4 linked regions of the Homo sapiens genome follow. The protein of the gene in region 4 purifies or fractionates together with the protein of the main gene of each other region. This does not show direct contact. Each region holds a gene or a part of one and is shown on either strand. Other genes may lie near its edges.

Evidence for each region.
Region 1: the proteins of MRPL48 (region 4) and WARS2 fractionate together in Homo sapiens (co-fractionation; one large-scale study listed by BioGRID). This does not show direct contact.
Region 2: the proteins of MRPL48 (region 4) and SDHB fractionate together in Homo sapiens (co-fractionation; one large-scale study listed by BioGRID). This does not show direct contact.
Region 3: the proteins of MRPL48 (region 4) and UBXN4 fractionate together in Homo sapiens (co-fractionation; one large-scale study listed by BioGRID). This does not show direct contact.

Annotation. Positions count from the first base shown.
Region 1 is NC_000001.11:119,078,058-119,081,970, reverse strand, and holds part of WARS2 (tryptophan--tRNA ligase, mitochondrial isoform 1 precursor), read left to right. Parts: intron 1-3,913. UniProt on the Homo sapiens protein: Catalyzes the attachment of tryptophan to tRNA(Trp) in a two-step reaction: tryptophan is first activated by ATP to form Trp-AMP and then transferred to the acceptor end of tRNA(Trp).
Region 2 is NC_000001.11:17,029,937-17,033,849, reverse strand, and holds part of SDHB (succinate dehydrogenase [ubiquinone] iron-sulfur subunit, mitochondrial isoform 1 precursor), read left to right. Parts: intron 1-704; coding exon 705-790; intron 791-3,913. UniProt on the Homo sapiens protein: Iron-sulfur protein (IP) subunit of the succinate dehydrogenase complex (mitochondrial respiratory chain complex II), responsible for transferring electrons from succinate to ubiquinone (coenzyme Q).
Region 3 is NC_000002.12:135,751,538-135,755,450, forward strand, and holds part of UBXN4 (UBX domain-containing protein 4), read left to right. Parts: intron 1-2,001; coding exon 2,002-2,030; intron 2,031-2,621; coding exon 2,622-2,740; intron 2,741-3,913. UniProt on the Homo sapiens protein: Involved in endoplasmic reticulum-associated protein degradation (ERAD). Acts as a platform to recruit both UBQLN1 and VCP to the ER during ERAD.
Region 4 is NC_000011.10:73,839,461-73,843,373, forward strand, and holds part of MRPL48 (large ribosomal subunit protein mL48), read left to right. Parts: intron 1-3,866; exon of another isoform or gene 3,867-3,907; intron 3,908-3,913.

The DNA.
Region 1 (3,913 bases), on a different chromosome or scaffold from region 4:
GAACCCATTTTTCTTGGTGCTGAGTGAGCATTTCTTAACAGACCTGGACTCTCCAGTGCTTTCCGGAGGAAAGAGCTGACTGTAGCAGAACAATGCTGAGGCATGGCCAAACCTTCAGAGGAGCACCAGTGTCACGCCGGGTCTTCTCTGTTTCAGCTCTTCAATCCTTAATTGCCAATAGAGGCATTTTCAAGAAAATGTTGAAGATAATTTCAGGAATGTAGGATTGAAATAGTAGGGCAATGTAGATGATAGAATTGAGAAACACTAACAGAGCTAAGGAGTGACAGCTTTAAACAATATTTTAAAATTTATATACAATGAGAAGAATAAATAGACTTATAGAAAGAGATTTTCATCCCAATTACCTGGTAATGTTATTGAATACTTTTTTATTACAATCTGTGATAAAATGCCATTTATGTAACCAATAAGACATAGTGTGGCCATTGAGCCAAGTTTGTGGTTTACCTTTGACTGTAGTTAAAACAAGTGTGATGAATGAACAATTGCTGTTACAGCTGGATACAAGCAGGACTTTGTAAGAAGAGTCTTGAAATCTTTAGTTGAAGTCTGTTTCTCACCACTGTACTGAAGCTGAAAGTGTTTCAAAGCTAGTAGGCAGCCTTCTTTTGATGGATCTTATTCACTTGAAATTAAAGACAGAAGCTCTCCTAATCACAAAAATTCTTTTGCCATAATTAATAACTTGGGAATTTTCAATTGCTTTTGAGTACAGTAAGAAAATTAAGGAAATTACACATTTTGGATGTGCTCAGTACCTTACAACAGGAATAGTTTCAGCTATGTCTGTCAAAATGATAAGTATGCTCTACCTTTGATTTGAATACCCACCCTCTCTTCTAGTATATGTCAAATCCTAGAGCTGAAGCTCCCCAGGGATTTGGTACTGCTGGTTCTGTTATAAAAATGAGCCAATAAATGTATAGGCTGGAAGTGGCATTTACCAGGGAAATATGCCTGAAATGAAATGAAGACCTACTTTCTAACATGCTTCTTTTTTAATCCTCTGCATACTGTGATGGAATTGTAGGTTGATGCTCCAGGCTTCCCCTTGAATGAATGCCTGTGGGCTAGGCTAGAAGCTGTTTTCTTTGTGGTTTGTCTCTTGTCCAAACCCATGGGAAGCCCAAGCTCCTTTCGTTTTCATTCTTTTCTAACTCTAGTGCTTTTGAACACAGAACCCCCATCCTCCCACCACCCAAACTCCACATTCCAACCCCATGATTTCATGGTACCTGGCATGTCTCCCCTGCCATGCCGTCAGGCCGCCTGCTGACTCCTGCAGAGGGAACAGACGGGAACATAAACTCACTGCAGAAGAGCAGGATGCTCTCTGTATATTTTTAAGACCAGGTATCCAGTTCCCATTTAGAGGCTGTATTTTTTTAACAGCGCCTTGAAAATTGAACAAAACACTTCTCGTTGGTCTCATTGCTTGATAATATCATTCCCTCTGCACTAATGTATAGAATCCCAGGAACTAGAGAATGGAAAAGATGTATTAGATCATTTCTAGCCCATTCCCACTGGTCACAATACTTTTTTCCCACAGTCTCTTCTCTGGTGCTTTTCTCTTCTAGTTTTCTCAAGAATTTGTTTTCTCCATTTCTCCTGGGGAATAATTTCTGAGTTTGAAGATGGAGGAATATATGTGAAAATATTCCTATTATTTTCAACTTAAAATTCCTGGTCTTTATAACCCTTTACATTACCATAAACAGTCCCTTATCTTCCTAGGTCAAGTATTTCAGGATGGTATTTTTTTCCTTTCCATTTATTAACTTCAGAGTTTGTTTTTCTGCTTTGCTTTCTCTCTTCATCAATCAGTCCCTAAAGCCCATTAATCATTTCTTACTGCACTGAAAATTCCTTTGCTTATTCCCATATCAGGAATCCAGAGCTGGTTAGGGTTCCTAGGTCCTGGAGGAAGCCTCGCTAATAGGTACTCATTCTATGCTAACTTCTCTCTCTCTCTCAATTCTCAAGTAGGAATTATTTTAAAAATATTGTTTCTAGATTATGATTTGGGGATTTCATCACTTGAAAGCCTTTTATGTGTGTGTTTGTGATTTTGAGTGTAAGATTATATTTGTTCTCAATTACCTGAAAGATATTTTTCATATCCTCAGAGCCACAGATCATTTGGGTTTCCTCCTCAGTTCCTGGATCAAGCACAATTCTGGACCATGGAACTATGATGTAGCATTCTATTTTAGGGCTATCATCTTAGGAGTTGAGAGGAAAATAGACTATATTTGTAGGATTTGGAATACTTGGGGAAAAGGAAGTGCCAAATTTAAGTAACCTTGGCACTCACATATCAAAAGTAGATTAGCTCTCAGGAGCTAGCATTAGGTATAAAAAAGACTTAACATGGCTTGTGGCTTCCTGGATTGGAGGACTCAATATTATAAAGATGTCAGTTCTCCCCGAAACAATCTATAGATGCAGTGTGATCTCAGTCAGCAACCCCAACCAGCAATTGCAGCTTCTAATCTGATCTAAAAAGAAGCAGCAAAAAATGAACAGGGTTTTTTTTTCTCTTGAGACTTGACAAGATGATTCTAAAATATATTGATACGTATAAAGGGCCAAGGATGGATAAAGTACTCTTGAAGAAAAAGAAGGTTGAAAGCCTCACTTTAGCAGGTTCCAAGACATATTTTTAAAAATCAATGTTATACTGACACAGTGACAGACAGATAGACTAATGAGTCAGAATTGAAAGACCAGACCCTTACCAGATTCTTCATAGAGGGATCCTTGATTTATGATGGCGATGGAATTTCAAAGCAGTGGGAAGAGACAGTCTTTTCAATAAATGGTGCTAGAATAATCAGATATTCATATAGGAAAAAAAGAAGAAATTAGATGCTTACCTCACACCATATGCAAAAAAACTCCAGATGGATACAGACCTAAATGTGAAGAGTAAAGATAAAACTTCAAAGTGCACACACACACACATTTTGTATATGCATATGTGTGTGTGTGTGTGTCTAGCTATATGTATGTATCCATATATGCACACACACACACACACACACACGTGCACCTTCATAACTGCAGGGTATTGAAAGATTTCTTCTATGATACAATAATCTGTTATCAGAAGTTATATATCTGATTCATAAAATTAAGTACTTATCTTTGTCAAAAGATAATATAAATAGAAGACAGCCATACAATAAGACAATATATGCCCTACATGTAATTGACAAAATATTAGCATCTAGAATATGTACAGATTCTGAAATCAATACAAGACAATCCAATCTGAGAAAAACAGGCAAAATAATTTAAATAGGCTCTTCATAGAATAGGAGGTAAAAATAGGTAGTAATCATAAAAAGAGTTCCCAACTTCTTTAATAATCAAAGAGAGTTAAACCATAATGAGATTCTACCTCATTTCCATCAGATTAGCTAAAAATAAAAAGACTGCTAATACCAAGTGTTGATGAGGATATGGAACAACAGGAACTTGGTAGAAAGTGTATAATGTTACATACTTAGGAATAGTTCACTATATTGAAGTACTACAATTGAAGATACGTATACATACCTTATGACTCGGCAATTCTACTCCTAGATATATACACTAGAGAAACTTGGCTCATAATACATTAAGATACCTGTATAATAATGGTCTTTTTTGTCCCTGTAATTTTTTATTTTGCAAATTTTTAAACTGACTGAAAAGTTGCAAAATTAATACAATGAATATAATAAAGTCTTAATAGATGGTAGCTAAGCAAAGCATAGTAGCTAGTAGAGAGAGCATACATGGGCTTTGAAGTCAGTGATATCTGGCCTGAAACCTCAACTCCACCACTTACTAGCTGTGTGACCATGGGCAATCTAGTTAAATCTGTGAGCCTCACGTCTCT
Region 2 (3,913 bases), on a different chromosome or scaffold from region 4:
GCTGTAAAGATCTCGTGTGTATTAACTCACCTCCAGCAATCCTGTGGGATGCAGGTGCTGCTCTCTGCACTCAGTGGATTAAATGCCTAGGCAGAAATTAAATCATTTGCCTGCAAGCTGGTAAGTGGCTCAGCCATGGTGCAGACCAGTCTCTTGGCTGCCAGGCCGGCACTCCAGGTCCCACGCCCAGGGATGCTCCGCTTAGTACCATGTCACTGCCCTTGTATGTTCTAGGAGGCTCACAGTGATTTGACTGGGGGACTGTGAGTGATTGGGTGTCTTTTATTCTCTGTACTATGTCTTCTCTTATGGTTATGTATTATTAATTACTATTTAAAACTATTGTCTACATCCTAAAAATCAAACTAAAATTTGAAATAAATTATTTGGAAAAACTTTGCAGGGAGCTTCAGAAGTAAAAAACAAAAACTCGGCCACTGTATGGAAGTTGTGTCATACTTGTCTACTACTACTTTAGCTTTCCATTTCCTAGAAATGTGTTTGCACTGTGATCATCAAAATAGAACTGTGCAGTACTTAAAATGTAAGAATCTGCAAAAACAAAACTACAGAACAAATTCCGAAGGTGACCTGAGAAGACCAAATGGATAAGCTAATACATCCAGGTGTCTCCGATTATATTATGATAAAGTGTAGGGAGGTTGAACGTTACATAAATACCACTGGATATTTTTCTTTGTTAGATGTGGCCCCATGGTATTGGATGCTTTAATCAAGATTAAGAATGAAGTTGACTCTACTTTGACCTTCCGAAGATCATGCAGAGAAGGTGAGCATTTCATTCCTGTTGGGCTCCAGATACTTGTGGTCTTCCAAAGAGGCTTGGGCTGGCCAAAGCTGATAGAGACATCTGGAAAACAGCTGCAGCTCTCTGCTGGGTGAACTTGCTGTGCAACCTAATTCCTTTTCTTGGGTAAATGCATCCAAAATTCTAACCATGGTGCAAGTTCTGGTTTCTGAGTTTACTTTCCTTCAGGAGCATTCTATCCTGTGGTTACTGCATCTGGCGGTCCCTGTGAGCTGCTCCACGCTTCAAGGCCTAGCTAGGACCTGCTGGCTGGCACCTTCCATGCTGCTGAGCTCTTTTATTAAGGGAGCAGTGGAGAGTTTCTGTCTGGCACTTATGCTTGTCCAGCAGGGGAGATGTGTGAGTCTCCCTCAGCTCCCAGCATGACATGTCCTTGGTAGCTGTGTTCTGGATTGGCTGGTACAGTGTCTCCCTCAGCATGTGGTTACTTGTGCTGCTGGTGCCACATGAGCCCATTTGAGGCAGTGTGCAGACTAACATTTTCTACATGAATAGCAATGTATTCATTTTCTGTATTAGAAAAATATAATTACTGCCGGGTGCGGTGGCTCACACCTGTAATCCCAGCACTTTGGGAGGCCGAGGCGGGTGGATCAGCTGGCGTCAGGAGTTCGAGATCAACCTGGCCAACATGGTGAAACCTTGTCTCTACTAAAAATACAAAAATTAGCCGGGCGTGATAGCGGACGCCTGTAATCCTGGCTACTCGGGAGGCTGAGGCAGGAACCCGGGAGGTGGAGTTTGCAGTGAGCCAAGATCACGCCACTGCACTCCAGCCTGGGCAATAGAGCGAGACAGTCTCAAAAAAAAAAAAAAGAAAAATATAATTACTAATGATGGTATAATAGGGATATAAGTGGTTTTTTAATGTGAATTTAAGCAAAACAAGTTAAAGAAAACCCAAGAGATACTTTAAAGAAAGTTGATTCAGGTGGTTCTCAGGTATAGCAAAAATTGCACAGGGTGCAGTGAAGACCGACTGGCCTGATGTCCGTGGAGCCAGACTGTGTGCCCGGCTCTGTTCTGTGCACTGGACATGAGGTAGATGACTGTGCTTATTATCTACCTTCAATTTAAAGGTGAGGCCCAGAGAGGGTAATGGACTTCCACAAGGACACATAGAGAGTGACTTGAGAGCCGGGAGTCAGCCAAAGCTGTCAGACTCCAGACTCCAGATCTGCTCTCTCAGGCACTGACTTGGCTTGGAACACCTGGGATAAAACAAAAGCAGAGAGTAGCTTGATTCTGTGAGGACACTGAGCTTTTTTCTAAGAAAACCTTAAAAAAAAAGGAAAAGCCAGTATTGATACCGGCCCATGGCTTTTTATCTGTTCAGCTGTACATTTCAAGCATTTCAAGTCTTTTAAGACATCTGTTTTGATTCAGCTAATCTTATTTAGCGTTGCAAATGCTGATGGATATTATGATAGTTCGGCTGAGTCCTGCTGTTCAGGGAACATTCTGCGGCAGTTAAACAGCAGCCTTCCCCATTAAGTCCTGGCAACACAGGAAAGGTAGATGCTTTTCAGTAACCTTTCCCTGTAGGACTCTTTCAGAACCAAGAACATAAGGTGTGACCCATCTGGACTAAAAAAAATAAAGCAGAATTGTATCAATTGCTACTCCTTTTTATTCCCATCTTGTTTTTCTTATTTTTTTTTTAATTCCCATCTTGTAAGAGAATTCCCAGGGAGCCTTTTTGAGAGAAAGTTCATTGGATTTATTTTTTTAATTTTTATGCCATTTCTTGTAAAAGCAAACTGCTCTAGTTGGATGCCAGGTATACATAAATGTATTGATAATATCCAGTCTCTTGGGGAACTCTAGGAGTATTTGCTTAAGACACATCTTTGGGTTCCCTTACACTCTTTCTAAGATTTACAGGAGAAGGAGAGTCTTACTGTCTTTTCTAGTCTTATGAAAGTGATAACCGACTGGGCGCAGTGGCTCACGCCTGTGATCCCAGTACTTTGGGAGGTCTAGGTGGTAGGCTAGCTTGAGGCTAGGAGTTTAAGACCAGCCTGGGAAACATAGACTCCCTTTCCATTAAAAAAAAAAAAAAAAAAGGTGAGGCCAGGCATTCAGAGGCCGAGGCGGGCAGATCACAAGGTCAGAGTTCGAGACCAGCCTGACCAACGTGGTAAAACCCCGTCTCTACTAAAAATACAAAAATTAGCCAGGTGTGGTGGCGGGCGTCTATAATCCCAGCTACTCAGGAGGCTGAGGCAGGAGAATCACTTGAACCCGGGAGGCAGAGGTTGCAGTAAGCCGAGATCGTGCCACTGCACTCCAGCCTGGGCGACAGAGCAAGACTCCATCTAAAAAAAAAAAAAGATGATAACCAGTGCAACTTTCTCAAGCAATCAGGTTTCTCTGACCTAATGATCTTCAAAAAACAGCTTCAGAGGACTGGCACTAGAGGTTTAGAGTACATAATCATTTTTAAATTCCAAAACACCCAGGAAATTTCCATATACAGGAAGTAGGTCCAGGCTAAGAAAATTCTCATGTCGGGGTCCTGGGTCAGCACGTTTTTTGTTTAGTTTGCTTTGCTTTGCCTCAGTTTCATATTAGTTCATTCTTCTCCTCTTTGGAAAGTCCATGCTGAGTCAGCTTTTGTGGATTTCATAGCCCCAGGGTACTATGCTGCGTATTTTATGAAGACAATAGAAGAAGCCTTACCTCTGTCAAGTGTAGTGGCTCAGGCCTGTAATCCCAACACAGTGGGAGGCAAAGGCAGAAGGATTACTTGAGGCCGTGAGTTAGAGACCAGCCTGGGCAATATAGTGAGACACCTGCTCTACAAAAAACAATTATTTTTTTCTTTTTTTTGAGATGGAATCTTGCTCTGTCACCCAGGCTGGAGTGCAGTGGCGCGATCTCTGCTCACTGCAACCTTCTCCTCCTCAGTTCAAATGATTCTCCCGCCTCACCCTCCTGAGTAGCTGGGATTACAGGCACCCACCACGACTTATATTTTTAGTAGAGACAGGGGGTTACCATGTTGGCCAAACTGGTCTCGAACTCCTGACCTCAAGTGATCTGCCCACCTCAGCCTCCCAAAGTGCTGGGATTCCAGGTGTG
Region 3 (3,913 bases), on a different chromosome or scaffold from region 4:
GGTTCATGTTTGTTTCACTGTAGACTGCATGCTGATAGAATCTAGTGTGCCTTTAAATTATGGAAAATAAATTTTCTTCATTTCATAATAACTAAGTCACCCAATGTTTTGGGATCATTTTAGTGTGTATGTATTTTTGGAGATAGCGTGCATTGAAAATAGATTAGTAGGAAATGCGTAAAAAGTTTACAATTATTTCTGAAATGGTAGGATTTTGGGTAATTTTTTTTCTTGATTTTTTACTATGTTTTTAAATGTTTTTATGATAATAATGCTTTATATTTGAGGGAAAAAAGCAAATTCTAGTTCTTAGAAGCATTTGTTTGATTATTGGAAGCATCTACATTGATGAGTATCTCTTACTAATCTTATAAATTCTCTCTCCCATCCCTGACCACTCAGCTCCCTTCTCTGGAGGGAACCAAATCAAGAAAATATATTTATGTTTGTTTTCCTTCCATGTTTTACAAAAATAGTATTAATAGCATTTTGACATACTTTTCTATACCTTTTTCTTTTCTTTTTTTTGAGACAGAGTCTCACATTGTACCCTGAGCTGGAGTGCAATGGCATGATCTCGGCTCACTGCAACCTCCGCCTCCTGGGTTCATGCAGTTCTCCTGTGTCAGCCTCCCGAGTAGCTGGGATTACAGGTGCACACCACCACACCCAGCTAATTTTTTGTATTTTCAGTAGAGAGGGAGTTTCACTATGTTGGCCAGACTGGACTCGAACTCCTGACCTCATAATCCACTTGCCTCGGCCTCCCAAAGTGCTGGGATTACAGGCGTGAGCCACCACGCCAGGCCAATTTTTGTATTTTTAGTAGAGACAGGGTTTCGCCATGTTGGCCAGGCTGGTCACGAACTCCTGACCTCGTGTCCACCTGCCTTGACCTCCCAAATTGCTGGGATTACAGATGTGATCCACAGTGCTGGCCTGCCTTTTTTTGTGATTGCATAATTATTCAGTTTTTATTGGTATATAGATTGCTTTTAATCCTTTGTTATTATAGAGTATTACATTATCACATGCCTAAGTAAGTCGTAGGCCTTATGTCTTCGTGTTCCAGGTTAAGATATTGTATTCAGGTATACTTGTCTGCTGAGGAAGCAGCATGGCAGATACCAAATTAATTTTTTAGCTACCAGATGCAGCCACTAGCTTGTGGGTTGTAAGAGCAAATAGTTCTTTCTCTTTTGAGATGAAGTCTCACTCTGTTGCCCAGGCTGGAGTGCAGTGGCGCGATCTTGGCTCACTGCAACCTCTGCCTACCAGGTTCAAGCGATTCTCTTGCCTCAGCCTCCTGAGTAGCCGGGATTACAGGTGTGTGCCACCACGCCGAGCTAATTTTTGCATTTTTAGTAGAGACCAGATTTCACCATGTTGGCCAGGCTGGTCTCAACTACTGACTTTGTGATTCACCCGCCTTGGCCTCCCAAAGTGCTTGGATTATACCTGTGAGCTACCACGCCCGGCCTTTTTTTTTTTTTTTTTTTTTTTGAGACAGAGTTTTGCTCTTGTTGCCCAGGCTGGAGTGCAATGGTGCAATCTTGGCTCACTGAAACTTCCACCTCCTGGGTTCAAGCGATTCTCCTGCCTCAGCCTCCCAAGTAGCTGGGATTACAGGCACTTGCCACAATGCCCAGCTAATTTTTGTATTTTTAGTAGAGACGGGGTTTCGCCATGTTGGCCAGGCTGGTCTCGAACTCTTGATCTCAAGTGATCTGCCTGCCTCGGCCTCCCAAAATGCTGGGATTACAGGCATGAGCCACCATGCCAAGCCACAAATAATTCTTTCATTTGAAAATTATAAAACAAACCAGAAAAAGTCTTAATGAAATAAGAATTATATTTTTCTCCTTCAACCTGATTGCTGTGAAAGAAACTGGTAGTTGCAGGAAAATACTTGTGATTGGTACAGTAAATTTTATTAAAACAACTCAGTATTTAGAAAATACTTGCATTCATCTAGTGATTTTGTTTGATTTTGTTTTACAGTGAAGCCTGCCTACAGTTTTCACAAATCTGTATCCTTTCAGTAAAGAATGGCTTATATATATACATTTATTTACCTTCCTTTTGGTTAATTTATGAAATTTAGAAATTATTCATTTTTATTTAGGAAATCATACATTCTTTTTTATGGAAACTTTATTACTAAGTGTCCTCATTTAAAAAAAATGTTATTATAGGAAATTTCAAACATATATAAAAGTAACTCAATGGTGTAGTGCACCCCATACATTGAGATAATATATTGCAGCTAAAGATAGGATAGGGAGTTTTTAAAATGTGAATATCTGAAAAACAATATAGATCAGTTGGGTTGGAATGTTACAAGTAGCTTGCAAGAGGCAGCTGGCAGCAAGATGGATAGAAAAGGAAGTTATGATAGAGGAGAATGTAGTAGATTCTTCACTAGAATATACCTCATAAATTAACATGTCACATGTATTAATACTACAGGTATAATGATGCAGTACTTGAAATTATTTAATAAATGTTAGATTATATTGTGAAAATCACAAAGATCATTTGTTTTCCTTTGTTACCAATAGTGTTTCGTAAAACTATCCTTTCGTTTCACATGAATTGTTAGACTTCATTAAACTGTACAGATCCTGTAGTGTGTGTTCCATCCAGTTTCTTTATTGGAGACAGTGGAATTCCCTTGGAAGTAATAGCAGGAAGTGTTTCTGCAGATGAACTTGTTACAAGAATTCACAAGGTCCGACAGGTAAGAAGGAACAGAACTGTTGTTTCCGTAAATGGTACGTCAGGAATTGGATTTTTTTTTTTGAGATGGAGTCTCGTTCTGTCGCCCAGGCTGGAGTGCAGTGGTGTGATCTCAGCTCAAGTGCAGCCTCCGCCTCCCAGGTTCAAGTGATTCTCCTGCCCCAGCCTCCCAAGTAGCTGGGATTACAGGCACCTGCCACCACACTGAGCTGATTTTTGTATTTTTAGTAGAGACAGGGTTTCACCATGTTGGCCAGGCTGGTCTCAAACTCCTGACCTCAGGTGATCTGCCCGCCTCGGCCTCCCAAAGTGCTGAGATTACAGGTGTGAGCCACCGCACCCTTCCTAACATTGGAATATTTTTGGAGCCCCTCTGTATATTCAGGAAACTGCCATGCCAAAAATCTTAAAAGGTAGTAAGTACTGTCTTTGTCACCTGTTTTTGTAAATAGCATGAAGTTACAGGTGCCAGTAGCCAGTACCTAATACTTGACTGACTTCTTTACCTTTCTTTATTTTTTTATTTTTTTGAGATGGAGTCTCTGTTGCCCAGGCTGGAGTGCAGTGGACTGATCTCAGCTCACTGCAATCTCTACCTCCCGGGTTCGAGCGATTTTTCTGCCTCAGCCTCCCCAGTGGTGGGATTACAGGCGCATGCCACCATGCCCAGCTAATTTTTGCATTTTTAGTAGAGACGGAATTTTGCCATGTTGGCCAGGCTGGTCTTGAACTCCTGACCTCAAGTGATCTGCCCGCCTTGACCTCCCAAAGTGCTGGGATTACAGGCATGAGCCACCACACCTAGCCATCTTTTACCCCAGTCTCAACACATAATGAATATCACCATAACTTTGTTGAAAGAGAAAGTTGCTGTCATATTAAGGCTCTAACTATATATTGCTTAATATATTTTAAGGACGTTATACTCAATAATTAATCATTTCTGTCTACTTTGGACAAATGGCTGGTAGAAGTTTGTAACTTTTTTCTTTGAATTCTAATTTGAGGGAAAATCAATAGTGTGCTTTAACAAATGTTTTTATGGTCTTGCCAGCTTGCAGGTAAATTCCATAATGTGATTATATCATACTTAGGATTATACATTTTGGATTCATCTATTTATGAGCATTTCGTATTTCTCTTTTTATAGAGTATAAATCAACCTGTATTTTGG
Region 4 (3,913 bases):
AGCCCAATGGAACAGAAGAGTAGAGAAACAAATGCACATATCTCTGGGTGCTTGTTATATGACATAGGTGGCACTGTAAAGTAGTGTGGCTGGGTCATTTCGGCTGGATGATCATGTGAAAACAAAAAATGACTCTTGACCCTATTTCACGCCACACACAGAAATGACTTAAAGATGGATTGTAGATCTAAATGTAAATATTAAAATAATAAAACTGCTAGAAGGTAAAATACAAGGATGTCTCCATGATCTTAAGGTAGGCAAAGATTTCTTAAACAGGACACAAAAATCCCTATAACCATAAAAAATGAATACATTGGACTACATTAAAAATAAGAACTTAATTTCAACTTCAGGCCTGGTGTGGTAACTCACTTCTATAATCCCAGCACTTCGGGAGGCTGAGGTGGAAGGATCGCTTGAGGTCAGGAGTTTGAGACCTGCCTGGGCAACAGAGTGAGACTCCATCTCTATGAAAAATTTTAAAAATGAGCCAGGCATGATAATGTGCACTGTAGTCCCAGATACTTGGGAGGCTGAGGCGGGAGGATCACTTGAGACCCGGAGTTCCAGGCTGCAGTGAGCTACCGTTGTGTCACTGCACTCCAACCTGGGCAATATAGTGAGACCCTGTCCTTAAAAAAAAAAAAAAACTCAGTTTTGTCAGTGACAAGTTAAATGAAAAAGAGAAAATAAATAAAAATAAAAAATAGCTTCTCATCAAAATATACCATTATAAAGTTAAAAGGGGGCTGGAAGCTGTGGCTTATGCCTATAATCCTAATACTTTGGGAGGCCAAGGCTGGCGGATCACTTGAACCCAGGAGTTTGAGACCAGCCTGTGCAACGTGGAAAAACCTTGTCTCTATAAAAAAATGCAAAAATTAGCTGGGCATAATGGCACATGCCTGTAATCCTAGCTGCTCAGGAGGTTGAGGTGTGACGATCACTTGAGCCTAGGAGGTCGAGGCTGCAGTAAGCTGTGATTGTGCCACTGAACTCCAGCCTGGGCAACAGAGTAAGACCCTGTTGTTGTTTTTTGTTTTTTGTTTTTTTATAGACGGAGTCTCGCTCTGTCACCCAGGCTAGAGTGCAGTGGTGTGATCTCAGCTCATTGCAACCTCTGCCTCCCAGGTTGAAGCGATTCTCCTGCCTCAGCCTCTGGAGTAGCTGGGACTACAGGCACCCGCCACCACGCCCAGCTAATTTTTGTATTTTTAGTAGAGGCGCGGTTTCACCATATTGGCCAGGCTGGTCTTGAACTCCTGACCTCAGGTGATGCACCCACCTCGGCCTCCCAAAGTGTTGGGATTACAGGCATGAGCCACCACACCCGGCCAACCCTGTCTCACAAAAAAATAAAATAAAATAAAAATAAAGTAAAAAGGGAAGGTACAGAGAGGGAGAAGATATTTGCAGCATGTACAAAGGATCATGTTTAGAATATATAAAGAGCCTCTACAAATCAATAAGAGAAAGGCAGACAACCCAGTTTTTAAAATGAGCAAAATACTTGAATAGGCAGATTACAAAAGATAGTATCCAAATAGCCAGTAATCATATGGGAAGGTGCTCAGGCTCAATAGATATAAAGAAAATGCTAGTTAAAATCTCATTGCATTACCACTACCAAAATGGCTAAAATAAAGAAACCCACAAGAAAACCTGACTATACTGTTTTCTAAGTGTTAGGAAGAATGTAGAGCAATTAGAACTCTCATACACTGCTGGTGGAAGTCTAAATTGGAAACTACTCTACAAAACTGTTTGAGAGTGTCTATTAAAGGTGAACCTGTTCATACTGTGTAACTCAGTAGTTCAGCTCCCAGGTACACCCCCAACAGAAATGCATACATATGTTCACTAAAAGATACATACTAGAACATTGGTTGCACTACTATTCATAACGGCCCCATACTGGAAATAACTCAAATTTCCACCAACAGTAGAAAGGATAAATAAATTGTGGCATATTCATACAGTGGACTAGTAGCACATGAGAAGGAAAGAATTGCCATTCCACATAATGCCTGGTTGAATCTTATGAACCTAATGAATGAAAGAAGACGGACACAAAAGAGAATGTATCTATCATTCCATTTTCATGAATTTCAAAAACATGCAAAATAACTCTATGGTTTCATAAGTCAGGATAGTGGTTACTAATTTGGGGAAAGGAGATCTTTTTAGGGTACTGGTAATGTTCTGTTTCTTGTCTAGGGTACTGATTACAGAGGTACTTTCACTTTGTGAAAATTCATTGAGGTGTAACTTATTTATGTATTTTTGCATATTAATGCAATAAAAATTTACTAAAATTCAAACATAATAGATTTTAAAATTCTAATTTTAGATTAATAAGATATTTACACTATTAGAAAATTTTAAAAACAGAAGAAAATAGTTTAAAATTCTCATTCCTACCCCCAGACCCCAGCCACCTAGTTCCCTCACAAACAGCCAATGATACTAGTTTTTGGGGGGGGGTTTGTTTTTATTTTTGTTTTTGAGACATGGTCTCACTCTGTCGCCTAGGCTGGAGTGCAATGGCTCAATCACCACTCACTGCAACCTCTGCCTCCCAGGCTCAAGCGGTCTTCCTGTCTCAGCCTCCCAAGTTGCTGGGACTACAGGTGTGCACCACCACGGCTGGCTAATTTTTATGTTTTTTGCAGAGCTGGGATTTTGCCATGTTATCCAGGCTGGTCCTGAACTCCTAGGCTCAAGCAGTCTGCCTGCCTCAGCCTCCCAAAGTGCAGGAATTATAGGCGTGAGCCACTGTGCCTAGCTGATACTATTTTTGTACATGCTTCCAGAGATATTTTTTAAATATGCAAGCAAATAAGCATGTATGTAATTACACACATGCACACACACACATATCTATTCTCTTCCAGCTCCCCCATTTTATATGTGTGGCAACATTTTGAACACATTATTCTACAGTTTGCTTTTATCATTTGTTTTATCTTAAAGACCTTTCCAGTATCTGTACATAAAGAAGTGGTTATTTATTTATTTATTTATTTAGAGATGGAGTCTCGTTCTGTCGCTCAGGTTCGAGTGCAGTGGCGGGATCTCAGCTCATTGCAACCTCCGCCTCCCGGGTTCAAGCAATTCTCCTGCCTCAGCCTCCCAAGCAGCTGGGACTACAGGCGCACACCACCGTGCCCAGCTAATTTTCATATTTTTAGTAGAGACGGGGTTTCACCATATTGGCTAGGCTGGTCTCGAACTCCTGACCTCATCATCCACCTGCCTCGGCCTCCCAAAGTGCTGGGATTACAGACGTGAGCCACCGCGCCCGGCCCCTTATTTCTTTTTACAGCTGCATAATTTACTTAATAAGTCTCCCTCCTTTTCTGTTTTGAAACAGGATCTCACTCTGTTGCCCAAGCTAGAGTGCAGTTGCGTGACCACGGCTCACTGCAGCCTCAACCCCTCAGACTCAAGCCATCATCTCACCTGAGCCTCCTGAGTAGCTGGGATTACAGGCACTTGCCACAATGCCCAGCTAATTAAGAAAATTTTTTTTGTAGAGTCGGGATCTAGCTATGTTGTCAGGGCTGCTCTTGAACCCTTTGGCTCAAGTTATCCTCCTATCTTGGCCTCAAAGTTCTGGGATTACAGGTGTCAGCCACTGTACCCAGCTATAAGTCCCTCTCTTTATGGGCATTTAGGTTAGATTATTTTCGGTTGAGGTGCTTTCTTCTTTCTGAAGTATGTTGTGTTAAATATTTTTTCCCAGGCTTTGTTTTAACTTTTTTTTTTTTTTTTTCCCTTGAGATGGAGTCTCGCCCTGTCACCCAGGCTGGAGTGCAATGGCGTGATCTCGGCGCACTTCAACCTCGCCTCCCAGGTTCAAGTGATTCTCCTGCCTCAGTCTCCTGAGTAGCTGGGATTACAGGTATGT